Homo sapiens: one gene and its partners. The protein of the gene in region 1 purifies or fractionates together with the protein of each later gene. This does not show direct contact. Each region holds a gene or a part of one and is shown in the gene's direction. Other genes may lie near its edges.

The links.
Region 2: the proteins of CDH13 (region 1) and AGPAT5 purify together in Homo sapiens (affinity purification with mass spectrometry; 2 studies listed by BioGRID and IntAct, with this or other methods). This does not show direct contact.
Region 3: the proteins of CDH13 (region 1) and VMP1 purify together in Homo sapiens (affinity purification with mass spectrometry; 2 studies listed by BioGRID and IntAct, with this or other methods). This does not show direct contact.

The regions. Positions count from the first base shown.
Region 1 is NC_000016.10:82,629,840-82,633,591, forward strand, and holds part of CDH13 (cadherin-13 isoform 1 preproprotein), read left to right. Parts: intron 1-3,752.
Region 2 is NC_000008.11:6,706,482-6,710,233, forward strand, and holds the start of AGPAT5 (1-acyl-sn-glycerol-3-phosphate acyltransferase epsilon), read left to right. Parts: upstream 1-2,160; 5' UTR 2,161-2,187; coding exon 2,188-2,406; intron 2,407-2,999; exon of another isoform or gene 3,000-3,061; intron 3,062-3,752. UniProt on the Homo sapiens protein: Converts 1-acyl-sn-glycerol-3-phosphate (lysophosphatidic acid or LPA) into 1,2-diacyl-sn-glycerol-3-phosphate (phosphatidic acid or PA) by incorporating an acyl moiety at the sn-2 position of the glycerol backbone.
Region 3 is NC_000017.11:59,731,550-59,735,301, forward strand, and holds part of VMP1 (vacuole membrane protein 1), read left to right. Parts: intron 1-3,752. UniProt on the Homo sapiens protein: Phospholipid scramblase involved in lipid homeostasis and membrane dynamics processes. Has phospholipid scramblase activity toward cholesterol and phosphatidylserine, as well as phosphatidylethanolamine and phosphatidylcholine.

The DNA.
Region 1 (3,752 bases):
AATGACTGTGAAACAAATCAAGAAAGAAATGAGCAAGAAATTCCATGGTAAATGTGATTCCCCTCCCTATTTGGGTAGCACTTACAACTAACCAAAAGTTCTAACAATGAGTGAGTAATCCCCCAAGAATTAGGAATTTAGGGAGGGGTTCAGGCTTGGAGGACAGTCGCTTGGGAGTGACTGAAAATGTTCCATGGAATTCTGAGATTTCGCTATAAAGTGGGGAGTTCTCTCTAGGGGTCAGAGTCTTGATTTTCAGGATTTTCAATGAGAATCAGTGTCTTATAGTGCTCCTGCAAATTTGTGTGTTATGTTTTAAGAGCAGTGTTTATTTGCAGAACTTTTTGGATGAGGAAAAGGACACAGGGTTGAAGAGGGTGCTGCCCCCTCCCCCCCTAGGGTCAATACATGACAGCCTGTAAGATTTCCAGAGCACTAGGGAAATGGAATATGTAGTGAAAGGAGTCAGTGATAGAGTTCACCTGTCTGAATATTTTTTTTTAGCAAGTCCCAAAACAGGTTTAATAAACTGCAAAGCTGAGTATGTAATCTGGAATTTGTGTAATTCCACAGTCTATACTAAAAGCCCCAACAGTCATCTTAGCTGATCGCTCCTACTCTGCCTCCCTCCCTTCTCCCCTTTTCTATCTTTAGCCCTTGGGTTTTCCGTTAAGTAAAATCTGTTTACTTCCAGAAGTATCCTCTATGTGTTATAGTGAAATTGCCCAACAAACCAACATACTCAATAACTGCATTATCTAAAAGCATCAGCACTTGGATGTGTAAACTGAGCCTCAATCTGAAGTTCAATGTTTAGGTTAAAGTGTAGCTAGGTTCTTGAAAACATCCTTATTTCCTTCCAAAAATACAATTGCTTGGGGAGTCTAGTTAATTTATATTTAGTGGAATGTAGGAAAAGGACAAACTATGGATTTAATTTACACCTGAATGACAGTCATATCATCTACGTAGCCAACAGTGTTTCTGTGTGCGCGTCTGAGTGAGTGTGTACATCTCTGCATTTTGATCTTGTAATACCTGTTGAAAAATTTCTCCAGAAGAGGGCTCCATCCACAGCATTACAAAATTCTGAATCTACAGCTCATTTTAAAGAACTTCAATGCAGCAACTCCATCAAAACAAAACTATTCTCCTTATTCCACATTAATTGCCACAATCACCCCCAAATGAGAAATCCTGCCATTTTTCACTGTATTTATTTCTGTGTCTCTCTCTTTCTTGCTTTCCTTCTTTTGCTCTCTTGCTTTCTCGCTAGCTTTCTTCTTGCTTTCTTTCTTTTCCCCTATTGTAGTTGGTTCTGTTCTAATTCATTCTTTGACTCTGTATCCCCTCTGAGTATTGGAGCAGGGAAAATTTCAAAGATGTTTGTAGACGGTGCAATACGCAATGTGAGGAAGTTCTGAAATTTCCTGGCATTTGACTTTGGTTGGACTTGATTTCATTCTTTAGGTAGCCAAAAGGCAGGAACAGTTCTGCCTGTGGAAGGAGATAACCTTCCCCCTTACATAACCACCCAGAAGGGTGACTCCTGAGCTAGGTCCACTCACTTTCCATCACTCATTGAAAAGGAGAAGGAAATATCCCCCTGTCATCCAATTACAATAATCAGCTGGACAGAATCAAACCAAGTGACCAGTGGTTTTGGCATTGTTTCTATTTAGCTGTCAGCCAGGTACCCATGCACCTGTGAGAATCTGACCCTCCTGAAGGATGCTGCCAATATAATTCCCCACAGCCCGCTTCTTCTGCAGCCACCTGGGATCCCAGGCCTGGCTCCTCAGGTATGAACAGGCTGCACAGACAATGAATGGCTGGGCTGTAGGATCTCTTGCTCCTGCAGTAGGCACTCAGCAGTGGCCTTATTCTAGAGTTAGGGTGGAAAGTCATCTTTCTCTGCTGAGAGAGGCAGCTTGGGGGAAGGCAGGAGAGGAGAAGAAAGGACATTTCTAACTTGAAGTGCTGACTGAGCCAGGGTCTGTGGAGGTGAATGTGTCACCCTCTGGCTTAGCAAGTTGAACCTCGAGACATCTGCTTGGTGGTAATGGAACTCATCTATCCCAAACCTGCAACTCTGGCTTCTGGGCAGAGGTTGCCAAGTAGCAGCCACAGGCTAAATTTAGCCATGGATGCAGTTTGTTTGGCTCAAATGTTTTGCAAATTGTACATTAATAAAAAAGAAATCCAGGTTTCTAGCATTTCTGAAAAAGTCAGGTCAGGCAACCCTAGATCCACACTTCAACATGGCCGTACTTGACAGGGCTGAGTCACTACTGCCCTCTTTAGGCAGGACGTGCCTCCGTAGCTTGCCATAATCGTCACCACTCTCTACTACCCAGCCTTCTGTGCTCACTAATTTTGCCTGCTTGCCCCTAGGGCTTTTTGAGTTTGGGACCTCTGCTTTCACAAATGTTGAGGTTTGATCAAATTGATGCAGTTTATTTCTCAGTGATGGACTATTTGGAAAGGGAGGGACTGGCCTTTTCTCCTTCCCTGTGATTGAATTCCATTGATGTGTGCTTTGGAACAGCATGACCAAGGGGACTGCAGCCCCTCCCTGAGCACATTACTGGCAGTACTTTTGGACAGGCACCCAGAGAGACATAGCACCCAGATCATTGCTTCAGGTGTAAGAGTCATGCAGAGAAGTGACACGCTGCAGCTCTGAGTCAGTACGAGCCCTGGCACACCAGTGTGTTGGTACAAAATGTCATCACGCACCAGCAGCCAAGGGACTCTGAAACCCTGGGATCATATAGAGGCCTGCATACCCTCTCTGTCAGCAGTCCTCAACCATTTTGGTACCAGGGACCGGTTTCGTGGAAGACAATTTTTCCACGGACTAGAATTGGGGGGATGGTTTTGGGATGATTCAAGCACATTACATTTATTATGCATTTAATTTCTGTATTGTTACATTGTAATATATAATGAAATAATTCTACAACTCACTATAATTTAGAATTACTGGGAGCCCTGAGCTTGTTTTTCTGCCACTAGATGGTCCCATCTGGGGGTGATGGGAGACACTGACAGATCATCAGGCATTAGACTCTCATAAGGAGAAGGCGACCTAGATCCCATGCACGCACACAGTTCACACAGGATTCCAACTCCTATGAAAATCCAGTGCCACGGCTGATCTGACAGGAGGCAGAGCCCAGGCGGTAATGCGAGTGCTGGGGGGCCATTATAAATACAGATGAAGCTTTTGCTTGCTCACGGGCCACTCACCTCCTGCTGTGTGGCCTGATTTCTAACAGGCCATGGACTGGTACTGGCCTGTGGCCTGGAGGTTGGGAACCCCTGCTCTACGTAGTGTTCTACCAAGAGCATGGCTGTCCTTGGAGAACAGTGACAGCTGAGCATCATCATTCCATGAGTGTTGCTCCCTCACGGTATAGACATAACCAGAACGTCACAATAACTTACTCTACTTAGACTTGCCAAGGCCTCCGGGAACACTGCTCTAATATTCAGCACCTTTGTAACTTCAGGATAAAGCTGAATCTGCAGCTCTGTCACCTACTTTTTTTCTTTGAGACGGAGTCTTGCTTTGTCACCCAAGCCGGAGTGCGGTGGCGCGATGTCGGCTCACTGCAACCTCCACCTCCAGGGTTTAAGCAATTCTGTGCCTCAGCCTCCCAAGTAGCTGGGATTACAGGTGCCCGCCACCAGGCCTGGCTAACTTTTTTATTTTTAGTAGAGACGGGGTTTCACTGTCTTGGCCAGGC
Region 2 (3,752 bases), on another chromosome or scaffold:
GCTCTGAAAGAAGCACCATTCCAGTAAAGGGGAGGAAAAGGTCATCAGACTGCAAGGGCTCAACAAAAGTACAAGGTAAGGAGGCAGAGGGTGTGGGCTGATTATCAACTAAGAGGTTTGCACGGAAAAAGGGAAAAAAAAAAAAACAGAAAAACAGGGCCGGGTAGTGGCAGAAAGAGAGGGTGGATCTGTGACTGTTCGCAGGAAGAGAGGAGCGGGAGCAGGACAGACAATAACTGATAGTCAGGAGCTGGGTTTGGAGATAAAGAGGGAACAAGAGAAAGTTAAGTTCTGTGTTTTCATGGCAAACATTGCACAAAAGTTTACAACTTCGTGACTAACAGTAATCTGGGGTGATTCACAACAAATTTACACATAAACACATATTTACTGACTTTATACACAGCAATCCTAACGTGAACACAGAACCTGCTTTATCTTTTCGCACACTGTTCTAGTGTAGAGATGTCTGGTCTCAGTTAAAGAAAGCATAAGGAGCATTAGTTGTGCACACTGTCCACACCTGTGACTTTTTTCCACCAGTACTAAACCTAGTGCTTCTTACAGTACAGGACAATGACAGCCACAGAAAGAGAGAAGCTCCTTTTACTGTGTAATGCTTCCTGCTGGCCTTCAAATACTTGTTACTTGAGAGATCTCCATTCACCTGGCTTTGTCCCCAAAGGTCATCATCTACCAATGATGTTGTTATTTGATGTTAATCATGTATAAAGAAAGTAGCTACCATCCTGGCCCTGATTAGAACTTCCCACTGAAATACCGTCCTGCCTAAAGGTAGCACAGGCTCCCATTATGGTGGTGGTGGGGAGGGGGCGGGAATATATATATATATATATATATATATATATATATATATATGGTAAAGCATTCGGCATTCTTTTAAAGTACAACTATCCTTGAAAAGGGTTACATATTAAACCATTTTTACCACAGCCAAAGGGGAGGAGAAAGATCCAAAAGTCCTGTGGATCTGCTTTAACATCAATAAAACAGTTATCCACCCTTCGTAGCTTTTAGTGAAGGCTACAAAAGTATGCTTTTTATGGATTACACATGTGCACGCAACTACTTTAATTACTACAGAAAAAAACGAGGCTCCTTATTAAAAAAAAATCAGAAACAAGTCCAACAGACTCTGAGGAAATGAAGCAAGAGTGAATTCTGAAAAGGTCTAATAAACAGTATGGAAATATCCTTGTGGGATTGTTCTTCAGCTATGCATAAACATGTAATTATCATCATTACTGTGATGGGGAAAAACACGGACCCTAATTCTGAAACACCCTGGTAGCGAGAGACGGGCAGGAGGGGCTGCTGCGCACTCAGAGCGGAGGCTGAGGAGGCGGCGTCCCCTTGCAAAGGACTGGCAGTGAGCAGATGGGGACACTCGAGCTGCCCCGCGACCTGGGCCGAGCTGCCTACAACCTGGGCCCAGGTGCCTGCAAGAATTAGACCTCCGATAACGTTAACACCCACTTTCTCACTGCTCTAATTGTGTGCATCCCGGCGCCCAGGGGCTTGTGAGCAGCAGGTGCGCGTTCCAGGCAGCTCCAGCGACCCTTAAACCTGACCGCGCGCACGTCCGGCCCGAGGGAGCAGAACAAGAGGCACCCGGACCCTCCTCCGGCCAGCACCCACCTTCACCCAGTTCCGTCAGTCGCCACCACCTCCCTTCCCGCGTCCGCAGCCGGCCCAGCTGGGGAGCATGCGCAGTGGCCGGAGCCGGGTTGCCCGCGCCCCAGCAGGTAGCTGTACTGCAACTGTCGGCCCAAACCAACCAATCAAGAGACGTGTTATTGCCGCCGAGGTGGAACTATGGCAACGGGCGACCAATCAGAAGGCGCGTTGTTGCCGCGGAGCCCCCTGCCCCGGCAGGGGGATGTGGCGATGGGTGAGGGTCATGGGGTGTGAGCATCCCTGAGCCATCGATCCGGGAGGGCCGCGGGTTCCCTTGCTTTGCCGCCGGGAGCGGCGCACGCAGCCCCGCACTCGCCTACCCGGCCCCGGGCGGCGGCGCGGCCCATGCGGCTGGGGGCGGAGGCTGGGAGCGGGTGGCGGGCGCGGCGGCCCGGGCCCGGGCGGTGATTGGCCGCCTGCTGGCCGCGACTGAGGCCCGGGAGGCGGGCGGGGAGCGCAGGCGGAGCTCGCTGCCGCCGAGCTGAGAAGATGCTGCTGTCCCTGGTGCTCCACACGTACTCCATGCGCTACCTGCTGCCCAGCGTCGTGCTCCTGGGCACGGCGCCCACCTACGTGTTGGCCTGGGGGGTCTGGCGGCTGCTCTCCGCCTTCCTGCCCGCCCGCTTCTACCAAGCGCTGGACGACCGGCTCTACTGCGTCTACCAGAGCATGGTGCTCTTCTTCTTCGAGAATTACACCGGGGTCCAGGTGAGCCGCCTCCCGCTCCCGGGTCTCGGCGTCCACCCGAGCTCCCGGGGGCGCGGACCTCTCCGCTCCCCCACAGCTGGCGAGGGTCACCCGGCCGGCCCGGCGGACCCAGCACGGAGAGCACGTGCCGCCTCCCCGCCTTCCTCTCCGCATGCTTCCTGCCGTTCTGCCGAGATCGCTCTCTAGGAAGCTGTGGCTGCGTCGTCCTGAGGCTACGAGTGGGACCCGCCGCCCCTTTCCCCGCCCCTCGCCTGGGTCTGATGCTGCTTAGCAAAGTGGGTGCAGATGCACGTTTTAAATAATAGGGCACGCGTTTAGCAGTTTCTGGCCTTTGGTCCAAAGAGGTGGTCATGTTGGAACAGATCGGAGACGTCTACACTCCGAAGTGCGCTTTTACAGTGACCTCTTGAAACAGAAGTACAATTCGGTCTTGTGTTCTTTCCCCTGGACAAGTGAAAGCTGGGCGAAGAAATGAATACATTTGTTAACCGTAGAAGCCTAACTAGATACATTTCTTGCCAACTTTAACTGGGCTTGAATGTGTGGGTGATCTGTTGTCTGATTACTTTCTTTCTGTTACTGTTTCTCTGTAGAGATTGGATTCGTAGATTAAACTTGAGAAACAAACCATAAAAGTGGAAGGCCCTCTTTAACAGTAGGTATTTGAAGTGTTATAAAAAAAAAAAAAAGGTGAATTTTTCTTTTATTTCTCAGTTTGAAAGAACAGCTTTATTCTTGGTTATTCCTAATGTCCACCTAGTCCTCTTTTACTTTTCTTGGTAGGGTTAGGGTGGCATGGGGAAATGGGACGGTATCATTTTGTCTTTTTAACTTTTTTTTTTTCCACCTACAGCAGCTGTTTTTACCCTGTGGTCAGTCAGGTACTATATTTAGTTTGCAGTTGCACTGCTGATCGACCCTTGATGGCCCCAGTTGGAAGTTGTTTGGGGGGAAGGAACTAGGAGAGGCCAGGGCCTCCATTTAAACCAGTGTCTGTAAGTGTCTCCTTGGAAAGAAAAAAAGATACTGTTCCAGGTCATGGTTTCCTGGTAGTTGACGTTTAAAATGGGCCTCATTTAAAAATTTCAATAATTCAGGCTAATTTTTTCCCTTTATATGGTAACTCCACCAAGTTTGTCTAAATGTATGATTTTTATCATGATTAAGTTTTTACTTCCACATCATGTGACAACTGGCCTGGGATGGGATATAAGCTCAGAACACAAAGTCATTCACCTCTTAAAAAAATAATTCTATCTGTGGCGGGTTATGTTATTTTTGTTCAAAGAGGACACAATATGATGCAGAATACACCATTGAAGGATTTTTTGGTTTGGCAAGTTCTT
Region 3 (3,752 bases), on another chromosome or scaffold:
GTGCTATGGGTTTAAATGATATACTTTTCATTGGAATAAAATAGAGATATATTACTTCTTTTATTTTTAATCTTATATTATCTTCTTAGTAAATTAAATTATGGGTCAGTCAGGGCCTGTAAGGTGATATTTCACAGTGATGGCAGAAGGAGCCTGGCCACAATCACATAAACAGTGTTCCAAGTACAAGATTATTACTTGTTAATCTTATAGTATGGTCAGTGTTTATTTGGCTTTGCTCAGTGCTCAATTTTATTGTGCTATTTTGTAATTCTAGAAGTAGATTATAAACTTACTACACTGTTCTTAAATATACAGTTATCAAAAAAGTTAGAATGTGAATATTATTTAAAAATTTATTTTAAAATTATCGTTTGAGATGAATAAACTCATATTTTAACCAAATTGGAATTTGTGGTAAATTTCAGTGTATTTGACTCCTGTTTATACAGTTACCCTGAAAATGATGACTTTTATTAATATGGATGATTTAAGTAGAAACTTTCCTTCATGCATTTAAAGGAAAATGAAAAAAAAGTTTTACTTTTGTTGTAATCATACTTTTTTTTTAGCTTTTGAATTGTTTGACATCTCAAACACATGGCAAATAATACTCTAGTGTGGTAATATTTTCACAGCAATCCTCTACTTTTAGAGGAAGTGCAAGGAATCTGAAATAGTAGTTTTCATTTGTTTGTTTGTTTGTTTGCTTTTTGAGACGGAATCTCACTCTGTCACCAGGCTGGAGTGCAATGGTGCGATCTTGGCTCACTGCAACCTCCGCCTCCCAGGTTCAAGCAATTCTGCCTCAGCCTCCCGAGTAGCTGGAATTAAAGGCATGCGCCACCACGCCCAGCCAATTTTTGTATTTTTAGTAGAGATGGGATTTCACCATGTTGGCCAGGGTGGTCTTGAACTCCTGACCTCGGGTGATCCACCCACCTTGGCCTCCCAAAGTGCTGGGATTACAGGCATGAGCCACCGCGCCCGGCCTCATTTGTTTGTTAATCACCATATTGCCTTGCAGAGGACATTTTGCAGCACTGATCTGACTTTTGGGTTACTTTGGTTGTCAGTAAACTTGGCAATTTCACCAAGAGTTTCAGGATTCAGAGATGGGCATTGCATACATCATAGTGTCTTCCCATTAGGAGCTTTTGTGTGCTATTTTTTTCTTTCCTTTTAGAGAGCACATACATTTGTATATTCTTCCTCTTCTGCTCACCCCATTGGAATTTAAAATTAACATTAGCATGTCAAACTTACTCTTCTGTACCAGGTGTTTTTTAATATTTTAGAGATTATGCTATAACTGTACATGAAAAACTGATTCTTAGGCTGGGCGTGGTGATTCACGCCTGTAATCCCAACACTTTGGGAGGCCAAGGCGGAAGGATCTCTTGAGCCCAGGAGTTTGAGACCAGCCAGGACAACACAGGGAAACCTCATCTCTGCAAAAGATTTTAAAAATTTGCTGGATGTGATCGTATGCGCCTGTAGTTCTAGCTAGCTACTCAAGTTCTAGCTAGCTACTGGAAAGACTGAGGTGAGAGTATCGATTTAGCCCACAAGGCTGCAGTGAGCTGCGATCACACCACTGCACTCCAGCCTGGGTGACAGAGCAAGACCCTGTCCCCCAAAAAAAAAAATTTATTCTTTATTATGGCTGCTTAGTTTTTCTTTCCATTGTACGAGTGTGCTGTACTTTAATCACTCTTCTGTCCTCTATTGGTAATATATAAGTTATTGATTATTTTTTGCTAGTACAAATAATGCTGTGGTCAATAAAGTTGTGCAAGTCATTTCACCTTATACCTAATCATTCCTAGAAATGGAATTACCGGTTTACAGTGTATATGCATTTTGTGCTGGGCGTGGTGGCTCACATCTGTAATCCCAGCACTTTGGGAGGCGGAGGTGCGTGGATCACTTGAGGTCAGGAGTTTGAAACCAGCCTGGCCAACATGATGAAACCTCATCTCTACTAAAAATACAAAAAAAAACTAGCCGGGCGTGGTGGCAGATGCCTGTGATCCCAGCTACTCGGGAAGCTCAGGCAGGAGAACCGCTTTAACCAGGGAGGTGGAGGTTGCAGTGAGCCAAAATCATGCTACCACTGCACCCCAGCCTGGGCAACAGAATGAGACCCTGTCTCAAAAAAAACAAAAACAAAAGCATTTTGTAATTTCAATAGATGGTGACAATTAATAGCTAAACTTAATTGGGCACTTACTAAGTGTTAAACTCTTCTGAGAACTTTACATATATGAGCTCATTTAATCCTTAAAATGACCCTGAAAAGTATGTACTATTGTGATCCCCATTTTACAGAAGAGAAAACTGAGTCACAAAAGTATTAACTAACTTGCCCAAGATCACGTGACTAATAGAAGGCAGAGCCAGGATTGGAACCAACTAGTTTGCCTCACCATTTTTGCGATCTAAACCACTTTGTTCTGTAATATGATCCTAGGTTGATAGAATGCCCTTCATAGAAGGTGGACCAATTTAGACTTATTTCAGTAATTTTCCCAAAATCTATAGCTCTATCCCAAATTCAACTGCTGGAATTTTCAGTACCATTTCTTTAGGACATCCTCTACAAAAGATTCTGATGTTTATCAAGGCAGGGAGTTGGTTTTGCCTCAGTTGTTCTCTAGGTAACACTGATTAAGAAATGGCAACTATAATATAGTAGCCCCCTTATCCATGAGGGATACATTCCATGACCCCTAGTGGATATAGGAAAAAACACTGTGTTGTTCTGTATATAGTAATGGGGTAACATATACAACGCGGATGTACTAAACAAAGGGATGAATCAGGTCTTAGGCTGGATGGAGCAGGACTGGCAAGATTTTATTATACTACTCAGAACAGCATACAATATAAAACTTAGGGGCTTGGCTGCAGTAGCTCACACCTGTAATTCCAGCACTTTGGGAGGCCAAGGCGAGCTGATCACTTGAGGTCAGGAGTTTCAGATGAGCCCAGGCAACGTAGTGAGACTGTGTCTCCACAAAAACCAAAAATATTAGTTGGGTGCGGTGGTACACACCTGTAGTCCTAGCTGCTTGGGAGGCTGAGGTGGGAGGATCACTTGACCCCAAGAGTTGGAGTTTAAAGTGAGCTGTGATTATGCCACTGCATTCCAGCTTGGGCAACGGAATGGAGACCCTGTCTCTTAAAAAAATAAAAATAAATTTAAAACAATAAAACTTATGAATTGCTTATTTTCAGAATTTTCCATTTATTATTTTCAGACCATAGTTGACCATGTGTTACTGAAACTGTAGATAAGGGGGAACTACTGTCATTCATCTTCTTTCTATGCTGAGTTGGGACTGGTTGCCTTTTTTTTTTTTTTTTTTTTTTTGAGACAGAGTCTCTTTCATTCTGTTATCCAGGCTGGTCTTCAGTGGCACAATCTCAGTTCACTGCAACCTCTGCCTCCCAGGTTCAAGGGATTCTTGTGCTTCAGCCTCCCGAGTAGCTGGGATTACAGGCGTGTACCACCATGCCCAGCTAATTTTTGTATTATTAGTAGAGACGGAGTTCCACCATGTTGGCCAGGCTGGTCTTGAACTACTGACCTCAAGTGATCTGCCCTCCTCAGCCTCCCAAAGTGCTGAGATTATAGGTACTACTAGTTGCCATTTTTCACAAGACTCTAGGACTTGCTATTAGTTGTTATTTGGGAGATAAAACTCTTTTCATCTAAAGTGATTGAAGAGAATAAGCATAAATGTTAG